Linked DNA regions of Homo sapiens: region 1 is linked to region 2. The links come from fine-mapping of genetic effects on plasma protein levels. A gene starts in region 2. The other region holds a variant in brackets. All regions are shown on one strand. Distances are from middle to middle.

Evidence for each region. PIP is the chance, under the fine-mapping model, that this variant and not a neighbour inherited with it causes the effect. Protein levels are from antibody-based Olink assays in UK Biobank. Linkage for the fine-mapping came from a reference panel and not from the study's own genotypes, which makes the PIPs less certain.
Region 1: its variant is fine-mapped to the plasma level of the CGREF1 protein (UK Biobank, PIP above 0.99).

The regions. Positions count from the first base shown.
Region 1 is chr2:27,099,785-27,105,124 of GRCh38, reverse strand. KHK (ketohexokinase) reads right to left here. Exons shown (of 8, transcript NM_006488.3): 8 at 4,363-5,340. CGREF1 (cell growth regulator with EF-hand domain 1) reads left to right here. Exons shown (of 6, transcript NM_006569.6): 2 at 748-838; 3 at 2,534-2,599; 4 at 2,695-2,765; 5 at 2,904-3,028; 6 at 3,237-4,531. The coding sequence starts at 759. The coding sequence ends at 3,851. It overlaps LOC124907744 (a long non-coding RNA gene), which reads right to left and starts at 748. Exons shown (of 2, transcript XR_007086252.1): 1 at 349-748. RefSeq lists a silencer at 3,343-3,522 and enhancers at 3,136-3,636, 5,242-5,340. The variant A/C (reference allele first, on the strand shown) is at 4,030.
Region 2 is chr2:27,116,677-27,122,042 of GRCh38, reverse strand. It overlaps CGREF1 (cell growth regulator with EF-hand domain 1), which reads left to right and starts at 2,915. Exons shown (of 6, transcript NM_006569.6): 1 at 2,915-3,197. LOC124907744 (a long non-coding RNA gene) reads right to left here. Exons shown (of 2, transcript XR_007086252.1): 2 at 4,558-5,366. RefSeq lists enhancers at 2,982-3,482, 3,483-3,983.

The DNA.
Region 1 (5,340 bases), 17 kb after region 2:
GCTCTGTTTGATTGGTCCATTCTATCCTTGACTGTTTTCATATACTCAAGTGGTTGATTTTGCCAATGGGCCTAAGCCATGTCAGTCTTAGGGGAAGTTTTTGTTTTTTCCTTTATAGTGGGTCTAATTTTCCTAACTGCATTTAGCAAATAGCAATTCCTGGGGCCACTGTTGGTCTGACCCTGATTTATTGTGTTTGCAGTTTGTACTTGAGTTTAGACCTATTTCAAGAAGTCTGCGCCTCTTTTGATTTGTTCTTCAGTGGGTTTTTAATAAACACAAACAGTCCATTTCTCTTTTTGCCTGTGTTTAAGTCTTGGTCTTTTTGTGACTCCCTGCGTTTCTTACCTGGCCTTTTTCTTAAACTTTCTGCGCTCCTTTCCATCTGTAAGATGAATGGGCTGAAGGAGGTCAGATATGCTTGCGCTGTACTTCTCTGGGCACCTTGGCACCTAGTGGGGAGCAAGGGAATGGGGCGTGGGGTGGGGATGCGCCCCCAGCTCTGCTTCCGCCACAGCAGGCCTGCCTTTATGTGCTTTATATACAAGAGCTGGAGTGACATTTATTTTGAGCATAGTTCCATGGGATCCCTGCTGTCTGTCTGTGAGTCCTCCCTGAGCAGGAGTCCTGTCTTTGGGGCTGCAGGTAGAAGCAGGCAGAAAATGCGCTTGTGTCTAACCCAGCCCATCTGTGACACGGTGGCAGACGCCTCTTTCCCCCGACCCCTGATTCTCTTCCTTGTTCCAGTTCCAGGAAGGATGTTACCTTTGACGATGACAGTGTTAATCCTGCTGCTGCTCCCCACGGGTCAGGCTGCCCCAAAGGATGGAGTCACAAGGTAACAGGGTTATGAGGGCAGGGCCAAGGGCTGGGAGGAGGGAAAGTCTCTAGAGAATCCAAGGGTGTGGTGGGCCCTCTGGGAGGCAGGAGACTGGGGTGTAGGTTCCCCGATCTCTGTATCTCCCTGCCATCAGCCTCCCATCTTGTGCCTGTCAGAGTGCCACAAAGTGGGCATTCAGTACATGCTTGCTGGACCCATTTGGAATCAGAGAACTCAGCTCCAGTGCATCGTGAAGAACAGGGAAGAAGCTGTGGCGCCAGAGAAGTGGGGGCTGCAATTGTTTGTTTGTTTGTTTGTTCTTGAGACAGAGTCTTACTCTGTCGCCCAGGCTGGAGTGCAGTGGCATGATCTCAGCTCACTGCGAGCTCCGCCTCCCGGGTTCAAGCAATTCTTCTGCCTCAGCCTCCCGAGTAGCTGGGACTACAGGCGCCCGCCACCATGCTGGGCTAATTTTTGTATTTTTAGTAGAGGTGGGGTTTCACCATGTTGGCCAGGCTGGTCTCGAACTCTTGACCTTGTGATCCGCCCACATCGGCCTCTCAAAGTGCTGGGATTACAGGCATGAGCCACCGTGCCTGGCCTGCAGTTTTGTTATCAAGACCTTGAGGTGGGCTGGGTGTGGTGGCTCACACCTGTAATCCCAGCACTTTGGGAGGCCGAGGCGGACAGATCACCTGAGGTCAGGAGTTCGAGACCAGCCTGGCCAACATGGTGAAACCCCATCTCTACAGAAATAAAAAACAATTAGCCGGGCATGGTGGTGCATGCCTGTAATCCCAGCTACTCAGGAGGCTGAGGCAAGAGAATCGCTTGAACCCGGGAGGTGGAAGTTGCAGTGAGCCGAGATCAAGCCACTGCACTCAGCCTGGGTGACAGAGCGAGACTCTATCTCAGAAAAAAAAAGACCTTATGGTGGCAACACCAAAGAAGTAGAGATCATTAGCATGTCATTTCTATGTTATCTGAATACCTTTCTGAAGGTTTTATTTATAAATACTGTGCAATGGGTATGCTGGGTAGAAGGGGAAACAGCCACAGGAACAGCCACAGGGGCTGGTAGCTGTGACAAAAGTCGCTGCAACTCCTGCCAGCTCTCTGGCATCACAGGTCTGGATTGACTTGGGCAAACAGTTAACCCAGTCCAGAAGTGGGAGCACATTTGGAGCTTGAAAGACTGACAACGAGATCCTGAGCAGCTTGAAACCCCAGAACCAACAGATACACCCTGTCCTGGAAAAAGTATAGGTCAATTTTATGTCATGGAGCAAACTGGGTCTATATAAAACTGGGCAGTGCCACCAGGCTCAGCCAGAGACCTGTCCCTTGGCTCCCAGCATGGAAGGAGAGGGGTCTGTGACCCATGTTGTCCTGCCACTCACTGGGCTGTTTTCTTGGATCTCTAACTTGTGTCTACTAGGTGTGGCCTCATCTGGCCTCTACCTAACCAGTTGTTTTATTTGGGTTTTCATTTAAAGTCTAAGGTAGCCAGCTGCAAAAACAGAGTCTGAGGGAGTTAAGGATTTGGTTCCAAGGAGACCAGAAGAGCCTCCCCACTACAGGGTTTTTGGAATTTTGGGGGCAACTCCCTTTGGGTCTGGGGAGAAAACTGCCAGGAGATTGGAGGCAGAAGGTTGGCAGGCTGGGCCCTGAGGGAGGCTCTCTGCAAGGCTGGTCCTCCCCTTCCTCCTCCAGGCCAGACTCTGAAGTGCAGCATCAGCTCCTGCCCAACCCCTTCCAGCCAGGCCAGGAGCAGCTCGGGTGAGTAGGGTGGGCCGGGGGTGCTTTCAGGGAGAAGACCAGGCCCAGGGCTGCAGACTCACCTCTCCCGGGCTGATTCTCCACTTTTCTGACAGACTTCTGCAGAGCTACCTAAAGGGACTAGGAAGGACAGAAGTGCAACTGGAGCATCTGAGCCGGGAGCAGGGTGAGGGGCTGGGCTGATGGGGCCAGGGACGGGAGGCTCTGGGCAGCCAGATCTGGGACTGACCTCGGCTGCCCCATTGACTCCTGCCTTCTCCACCTCCCCCGGCACCTCTTCTAATCCAGCTTCTCTTCTCTTTAGTTCTCCTCTACCTCTTTGCCCTCCATGACTATGACCAGAGTGGACAGCTGGATGGCCTGGAGCTGCTGTCCATGTTGACAGCTGCTCTGGCCCCTGGAGCTGCCAACTCTCCTACCACCAACCCGGTAAGCTCTGCTGGATGGAGATCCCCGCATAAAGGAGACCCAGCACTTTGGGGCTTTGGTCTTTCTCATCATAACTCTTTTGGTGAGTCCTCTGTAAAAGGAGGGCTCAGAGCTTGCACGGCAGGGATGCAAGGGTGTGTTAGGGAGGGTCAGAACTCCTGGGAACATCTCTGTCCCTGGAGACCCCACAGTGACTCTGCTTCCACAGGTGATCTTGATAGTGGACAAAGTGCTCGAGACCCAGGACCTGAATGGGGATGGGCTCATGACCCCTGCTGAGCTCATCAACTTCCCGGGAGTAGCCCTCAGGCACGTGGAGCCCGGAGAGCCCCTTGCTCCATCTCCTCAGGAGCCACAAGCTGTTGGAAGGCAGTCCCTATTAGCTAAAAGCCCATTAAGACAAGAAACACAGGAAGCCCCTGGTCCCAGAGAAGAAGCAAAGGGCCAGGTAGAGGCCAGAAGGGAGTCTTTGGATCCTGTCCAGGAGCCTGGGGGCCAGGCAGAGGCTGATGGAGATGTTCCAGGGCCCAGAGGGGAAGCTGAGGGCCAGGCAGAGGCTAAAGGAGATGCCCCTGGGCCCAGAGGGGAAGCTGGGGGCCAGGCAGAGGCTGAAGGAGATGCCCCCGGGCCCAGAGGGGAAGCTGGGGGCCAGGCAGAGGCTGAAGGAGATGCCCCCGGGCCCAGAGGGGAAGCTGGGGGCCAGGCAGAGGCCAGGGAGAATGGAGAGGAGGCCAAGGAACTTCCAGGGGAAACACTGGAGTCTAAGAACACCCAAAATGACTTTGAGGTGCACATTGTTCAAGTGGAGAATGATGAGATCTAGATCTTGAAGATACAGGTACCCCACGAAGTCTCAGTGCCAGAACATAAGCCCTGAAGTGGGCAGGGGAAATGTACGCTGGGACAAGGACCATCTCTGTGCCCCCTGCCTGGTCCCAGTAGGTATCAGGTCTTTCTGTGCAGCTCAGGGAGACCCTAAGTTAAGGGGCAGATTACCAATA[A/C]AGAACTGAATGAATTCATCCCCCCGGCCACCTCTCTACCCGTCCAGCCTGCCCAGACCCTCTCAGAGGAACGGGGTTGGGGACCGAAAGGACAGGGATGCCGCCTGCCCAGTGTTTCTGGGCCTCACGGTGCTCCGGCAGCAGAGCGCATGGTGCTAGCCATGGCCGGCTGCAGAGGACCCAGTGAGGAAAGCTCAGTCTATCCCTGGGCCCCAAACCCTCACCGGTTCCCCCTCACCTGGTGTTCAGACACCCCATGCTCTCCTGCAGCTCAGGGCAGGTGACCCCATCCCCAGTAATATTAATCATCACTAGAACTTTTTGAGAGCCTTGTACACATCAGGCATCATGCTGGGCATTTTATATATGATTTTATCCTCACAATAATTCTGTAGCCAAGCAGAATTGGTTCCATTTGACAGATGAAGAAATTGAGGCAGATTGCGTTAAGTGCTGTACCCTAAGGTGATATGCAGCTAATTAAATGGCAGATTTTAATCCAGGTCTGTCTCACTCTAAAGCCCTTTACATTATATGCTCTTTACATTATAAGGCCTTACCCACCCTATATTGGAGTTGGCCCCAATTCCAATATGTGTTCCAGATCGGACCTCCCTGAGGACAGCAACACTCTGTATCCTGGGTCACATTTGTGGCTGAGGCACGCCCTTAATTCCAAGGTGGGCTCCAAGGGTGAGACTTTCAGGCTCTGGGGCAGTCAGCGGGAGGAGGTATTTCTGGACAATGAAGACCCCATCAAATCACAGGCTGGTGGGCAGGGCAGAGGAGGCGCACCCCTGCCCCCCACTGGCCTGTCAGTTCAGCTCAGCGGTGTGGACTCCCAGCTTCTGAGCTGTGGGAATAGAGTCTGCACAACGCAGGGCCCCGAAGAGCTCTCACGGTTTCTTTGGCAGGTTCACTGGGTGTGGGGCACCGAGTGTCCTCCCCAGCCAGGGCAGAGCTGGTGGCAAGCCCAGGGCACTTCTCGCTGCTCTAGCCCAGGCAGCCCCTCCTCTGGGCCTGGGCGGAGAGGTTAATTTGGGGAATGGACACAAAGAGGGAGGATCGAAGAGTCAGAGCCTCAGGAATGCCCAGCCAGAGCAGTTCAGACATTGAGAGGAGAAGCTGGCTCTGAGGAAGATTTATTTGCTCTGAGGCTCTGCATCCCCCAGCCATCCCCCCAGAGCCTCTCCCTGTGGGGAACACAGGACACAGGCAGAGTCCTCCCCACAGCTTGCATCTGTCCCCTGAACAGGGCAACCTGGACGCCAGGCTGGATGGAGGGGAGAAGGCGATGCAGCCGCAATGGTA
Region 2 (5,366 bases):
CTTTCAATAGCAGTGACCTCTTCATGTCCTCACTCAGCCACCTTTATAAATTAAAACTCAGGCACAAATTAGTAGGATATTCAATGCCTGAAGTGGCCTGGGGCTTAGAGATTGGAGGTGGAGAATTGGCAATCATCAGCATTTAGGTGGTGTATTAGTTGGCAGTTTGCTGTAAGAAAGCACTACAAACTGGGTGTCTTAAACCAGGGGTCCCCAACCCCCTGGGCTGCAAATTGGTACTGGTCCATGACCTGGTAGGAACCAGGTGGCATAGCAGAAGGTGAGCAGGATGAGCAAGCATTACTGCCTGAGATCAGCAGTGGAATTAGATTCTCATAGGAGCGCAAACCCTATGTGAACTGCACACAAGAAGGATCTAGGTTGCGTGCTCCTTATTAGAATCTAATGCCTGTTGATCTGAGGTGGAAGTTTCATCCCAAAACCATCACCCTCACCCCCAACCCTTCTGATCTGTGGAAAGATTGTCTTCTCTGAGGCTGGGCACGTGGCTCACGCCTGTAACGCCCAATGCTTTGAGAGTTCAAGGCAGGCGGATCACCTGAGGTCAGGAGTTCGAGACCAGGCTGGCCAACATGGTGAAACCTCGTCCCTACTAAAAAAATACAAAAAAAGAAAAAAAAAAGAAAAAAAAAAAAAGATTGTCTTCTCTGAAACTGGTCCCTGGTGCCAAAAAGGTTGGGGACTGTCTTAAACAACAGAGATTTATTGTCTCACACTTCTGGAGACTAGAAGTCAAGACTGAAATATCAGTAGGGTGGGTTCATTCTGGGAACCGTGAGGAATAATCTATTCCATGCCTCTCCCCTGGCTTCTGGCATTTTGCTGGAAATCTTTGGCACTCCCTGACTGGTAGAAGCATCACCCTGATCTCTGTCTTCATCTTCACAAACATCTTAGTGAGTTTGTGCTGCTATAACAAAATCCCACAGACTGAGTAATTTACAAACAACAGAAATTTATTCCTCACAGTTCTGGAGACTGGGAAGTCCAAGATCCAGGCACTGGCAGGTTCGGTGTCTGTGAAGGTCCATTCCTCAGAGATGGTGCGTCTGGGTTTCCTCATGTGATGGAAGGGACAGAAAGGCAAGAGAGCAAGAGGGGTGAACTCTCTCAGAAACCTCTTTCATAAGGTCATTAATCCCTTCATGAGGGGAGAGCCCTCATGGTTTCATCATGTCCCAAAAGGCCCTACTCCTTTTTGGTTTTTTTCAGAGGCAGGATGTCGCTCTGTCACCAAGGTTGGAGTGCAGTGGCAGGATCACAGCTCACTGTAACCTCAAATTCCTGGACTCAAGGGATCTGCCTGCCTCAGCCTCCCAAATAGCTGGGACTACAGGCGTGCACCACCATGCCTAATTTTTATTTATTTATTTATTGTAGAGACACGGTCTCACTATGTTGCCCAGACTGGTCGAAAACTCCTGGCCTCAAGAGATCCTCACACTTCGGCCTCCCAAAGTGCTGGGATTACAGGTGTGAGCCACTGTGCCTGGCTTCCTCCTCTTAATATCACCACAATGGGGACTAAGTTTCAGCACATGAATTTGGTGGGATATTCAGGCCATAGCAATGTTCTTCCTATGTGTGTGTCTGTGTCCACATTTCCTCTTTTGATATGAACACCAGTCATATTGATTAGGGGCCCACCCTACTCCAGTATGACCTCATCTTAATGGATTACATCTGCAATGACCCTATTTCCAAATAAGGTCACAGTCTGAGGTATTGGAGGTTAAGACTTCAACATATAACTTTGTGAAGGACACGAGTCAATGCATAACAGTGATGGGAGCTAGGTGAGCAGATGAGCACATGAGCAGATGGAAAGTGAGGAGAGGGCCCTGAGGAACTCTGACGGTGAAGAAAATGGAGACCTTTTTGAAATGACCAGAGGTAGGAGAGGTATTGCCGAAACCAGCAGAATCCGTGATCTAAAAAGGCAGTGACAAGCAGTGTTCATCACTGGGAGGAGGACAGGATGAGAGTGGGCTTGTCGCTGTGATGACAGTGTCGCTGTGATGGAGTGTCACAAACAACTCAGGAAGAGTTCACCCTGACACCCCAATACATATGCCTCTAACACTCTGCACCGCCACACCCCTGGGCAGTCAGTCACACATTGGCCATACCCTGAAGCCCACACTATCATTTATTTTTTATTTATTTATTTATTTATTGAGACGGAGTCTCAGTCTTGCTTTGTCACCCAGGCTGGAGTGCAGTGGCGTGATCTCGGCTCACTGCAAGCTCCACCACCCAGGTTCATGCCATCCTCCTGCCTCAGCCTCCCGAGTAGCTGACACTACAGGCGCCCGTCACCATGCCCGGCTAATGTTTTTGTATTTTCAGTAGAGACGGGGTTTCACTGTGTTAACCAGGATGGTCTCCATCTCCTGACCTCGTGATCCACCCGCCTTGGCCTCCCAAAGTGGTGGGATTACAGGTGTGAGCCACCACGCCCGGCCCCTGAAGCCCACACTATCACACGGATGCACAGTCACACAAAATACCCCCTACCGTGTCACAAATTCCTCATACACAGAGCCACACATGCCAGTCACAACCGCACATGCTAACAGTAAGTTAGGTTCCATTTTGTCACATACATCTGGGTCCCTCAGGCAGAGAAAGTGGCAACCAAAGCATGAGCACAGTTAAACATACTTCTGATGCACACTGGCCTCACTGTCTCTTGGTCTCTCTGTACTCACATGTGTGCATACAGGCACACGCACACATCCGCGCACACATGCACGCTCACACACGTGCATCCTTACACATGCTCACACTCACGCTCACAATGTCACACGCATGTGCACACCCGCACAAGCACACGAGCGCACTCACGAGCACACGCGGACTCGCACACGCGCACATGCGCACTCACGCACGCACACACGCGCACACTCACACGGGCGCGCGCAGCCCCTCCGGCCGCGGGCGCAGCGGGGGCGCTGGTGGAGCTGCGAAGGGCCAGGTCCGGCGGGCGGGGCGGCGGCTGGCACTGGCTCCGGACTCTGCCCGGCCAGGGCGGCGGCTCCAGCCGGGAGGGCGACGTGGAGCGGCCACGTGGAGCGGCCCGGGGGAGGCTGGCGGCGGGAGGCGAGGCGCGGGCGGCGCAGCAGCCAGGAGCGCCCACGGAGCTGGACCCCCAGAGCCGCGCGGCGCCGCAGCAGGTGGGTGACACCCCGCCCCGGCCGGCCGGAGACCCGAGCCCATCGCCGTCAGCCAGCCAGGGCCGCGCGGGGTAGGTGGCCTCCAGCCTCTGGTCCAGATCCCGAGAGCGCAGTCCCTCTGCATCCCCTGCGGCTCAGACGCGGCGGGAGCAGTGGCCCTTGCCCCTGTGTACCCTGAGGGCAGGTGGAGGAAGGGACTGGAGAGCGAGCCTGAGGCTCCTTGGTGTGAATTTGGGGCTTCGCAGTTCCCCAGGCGCTTCCCCCAGCCCCGCATTCCGTGTTCCAGCAGTCCTGGGGGAGGGGCAGCTGGCGGGAGCTTTCCCCCTCATCCGACGGGGAAGAAATGGAGCGCTGGGGAGGGCCCGAGGCTGTCGTCCGCTTGCAGGTGGCCGAGGGACCAGCTCCCGGGTGTGGGCTCCTCTAGCCCTGTAGCCGCTGTCTCCTTTCTTGGGGGATGGGTGCTGGGAGGCACAAGGGCACCAGAGGGATAAATTAAGAATTAAGGGAGAGGATTCTACTCAAAATTTTAGCTTCCCAACAGTTCGACTCTACAGGAGATGGAACTGCCGGCCTGTGAGGTGCTAGGTTCCTGTCCTGGAATGATTCAAGCAGAGGCCATTTGACAGGGTTGCTGAGGAAGAAATTTTTGCTTTGGATGGGAAGTTACCCAGGATAACCCTGCAAGGCCCCTGCCACAGCCCAGAGGCTCTGAAATACCCAAGCAGCACCTGCTTGGTGCCAGGCACCTACCCTAAGTTTTCTCATTGCAGCCTCCCCAAACCTTTAGGAGACAGATACCGTTATCCTCATTTTTAAAATGCAGATCCCGACCAGGAGCAGTGGCTCACGCCTGTAATCCCAGCACTTTGGGAGGCCGAGACGGGCGGAACACGAAGTCAGGAAATCGATACCATCCTGGTTAACACGGTGAAACCCCGTCTCTGCTAAAAATACAAAAAAAATTTAGCCAGGCGTGGTGGCAGGCGCCTGTAGTCCCAGATACTCGGGAGGCTGAGGCAGGAGAATGGAGAATGGCGTGAACCCGGGAGGCGGAGCTTGCTGTGAGCCGAGATCGTGCCATTGCACTCCAGCCTGGGCGACAGAGCGAGACTCCGCCTCAAAAAAAAAAAAAAAAAAAAATTCAGATCCCAGGGCTCAGAGAGGTTAAGACACCTGCCTAGGTCCCACAGTGAGTAGTATCAGAGGCAGGATTTGATCAGAAGTCTAACCTGTAGAGCGTGCTCTCCTCCCATGCACTGGTGCAAAGGCTTGAAGAACACTGGGGCCGGAGGGTCATTGTGAATGTGTGAGTGCACGTGTGTGACATAACTTTATTAAATTACATGGCAACTGTTAACAGTTATGGTGGCTTTCATGTGTTTATTAGGGTAATTATGTTCATGCACATTATAGTTATAGAAAATGGTTAGGGACATTTTTATTGGACAGGCAGTGGTTCAATAACTATTTTATTTCTCTCACAAAAGCTTTTGTTAATGTTTAGAAATGTCTAAGTGTCAACACATCGCACTAACCTCATTACACATTACATGAGGTGTCTTAGCCTTTCCTTAAACCACTGAGGTGGGTTACTTGCACTAAAATGTCACAGTTGGAAGCATTACTTAGAATATTGGCCAGGTGCAGTGGCTCATGCCTGTAATCCCAGCACTTTGGGAGGCCAAGGTGGGTAGATCACTTGATCAGGGGTTCGAGAACAGCCTGTCCAACGTGGTGAAACCCCGTCTCTACTAAAAATACAAAAATTAGCCAGGTGTAGTGGTGCACACCTGTAATCCCAGCTACTTGGGAGGCTGAGGCAGGAGAATCGCTTGAGCCTGGGAAGTGGAGACTATGGTGAGTAGATTTTGCGCCACTGCACTCCAGCCTGGGTGACAGAGCGAGACTCTGTCTCAAAAAAAGAGAGAGAGAGAGAGAGAGAGAGAGAGAGAGAGAGAGAGAGAGAGAGAGAGAATAGGCCTGGCCTGGTGGCTCATCCCTGTAATCCCAGCACTTTGGGAGGCCAAGGTGGGCAGATCACCTGAGGTCAGGAGTTCAAGACCAGCCTGGCCAAGATGCCGAAACCCCATCTCTACTAAAAATACAAAATTAGCAGGTCATGGTGGCACATGCCTGTAATCCCAGCTACTCGGGAGGCTGAGGCAGGAG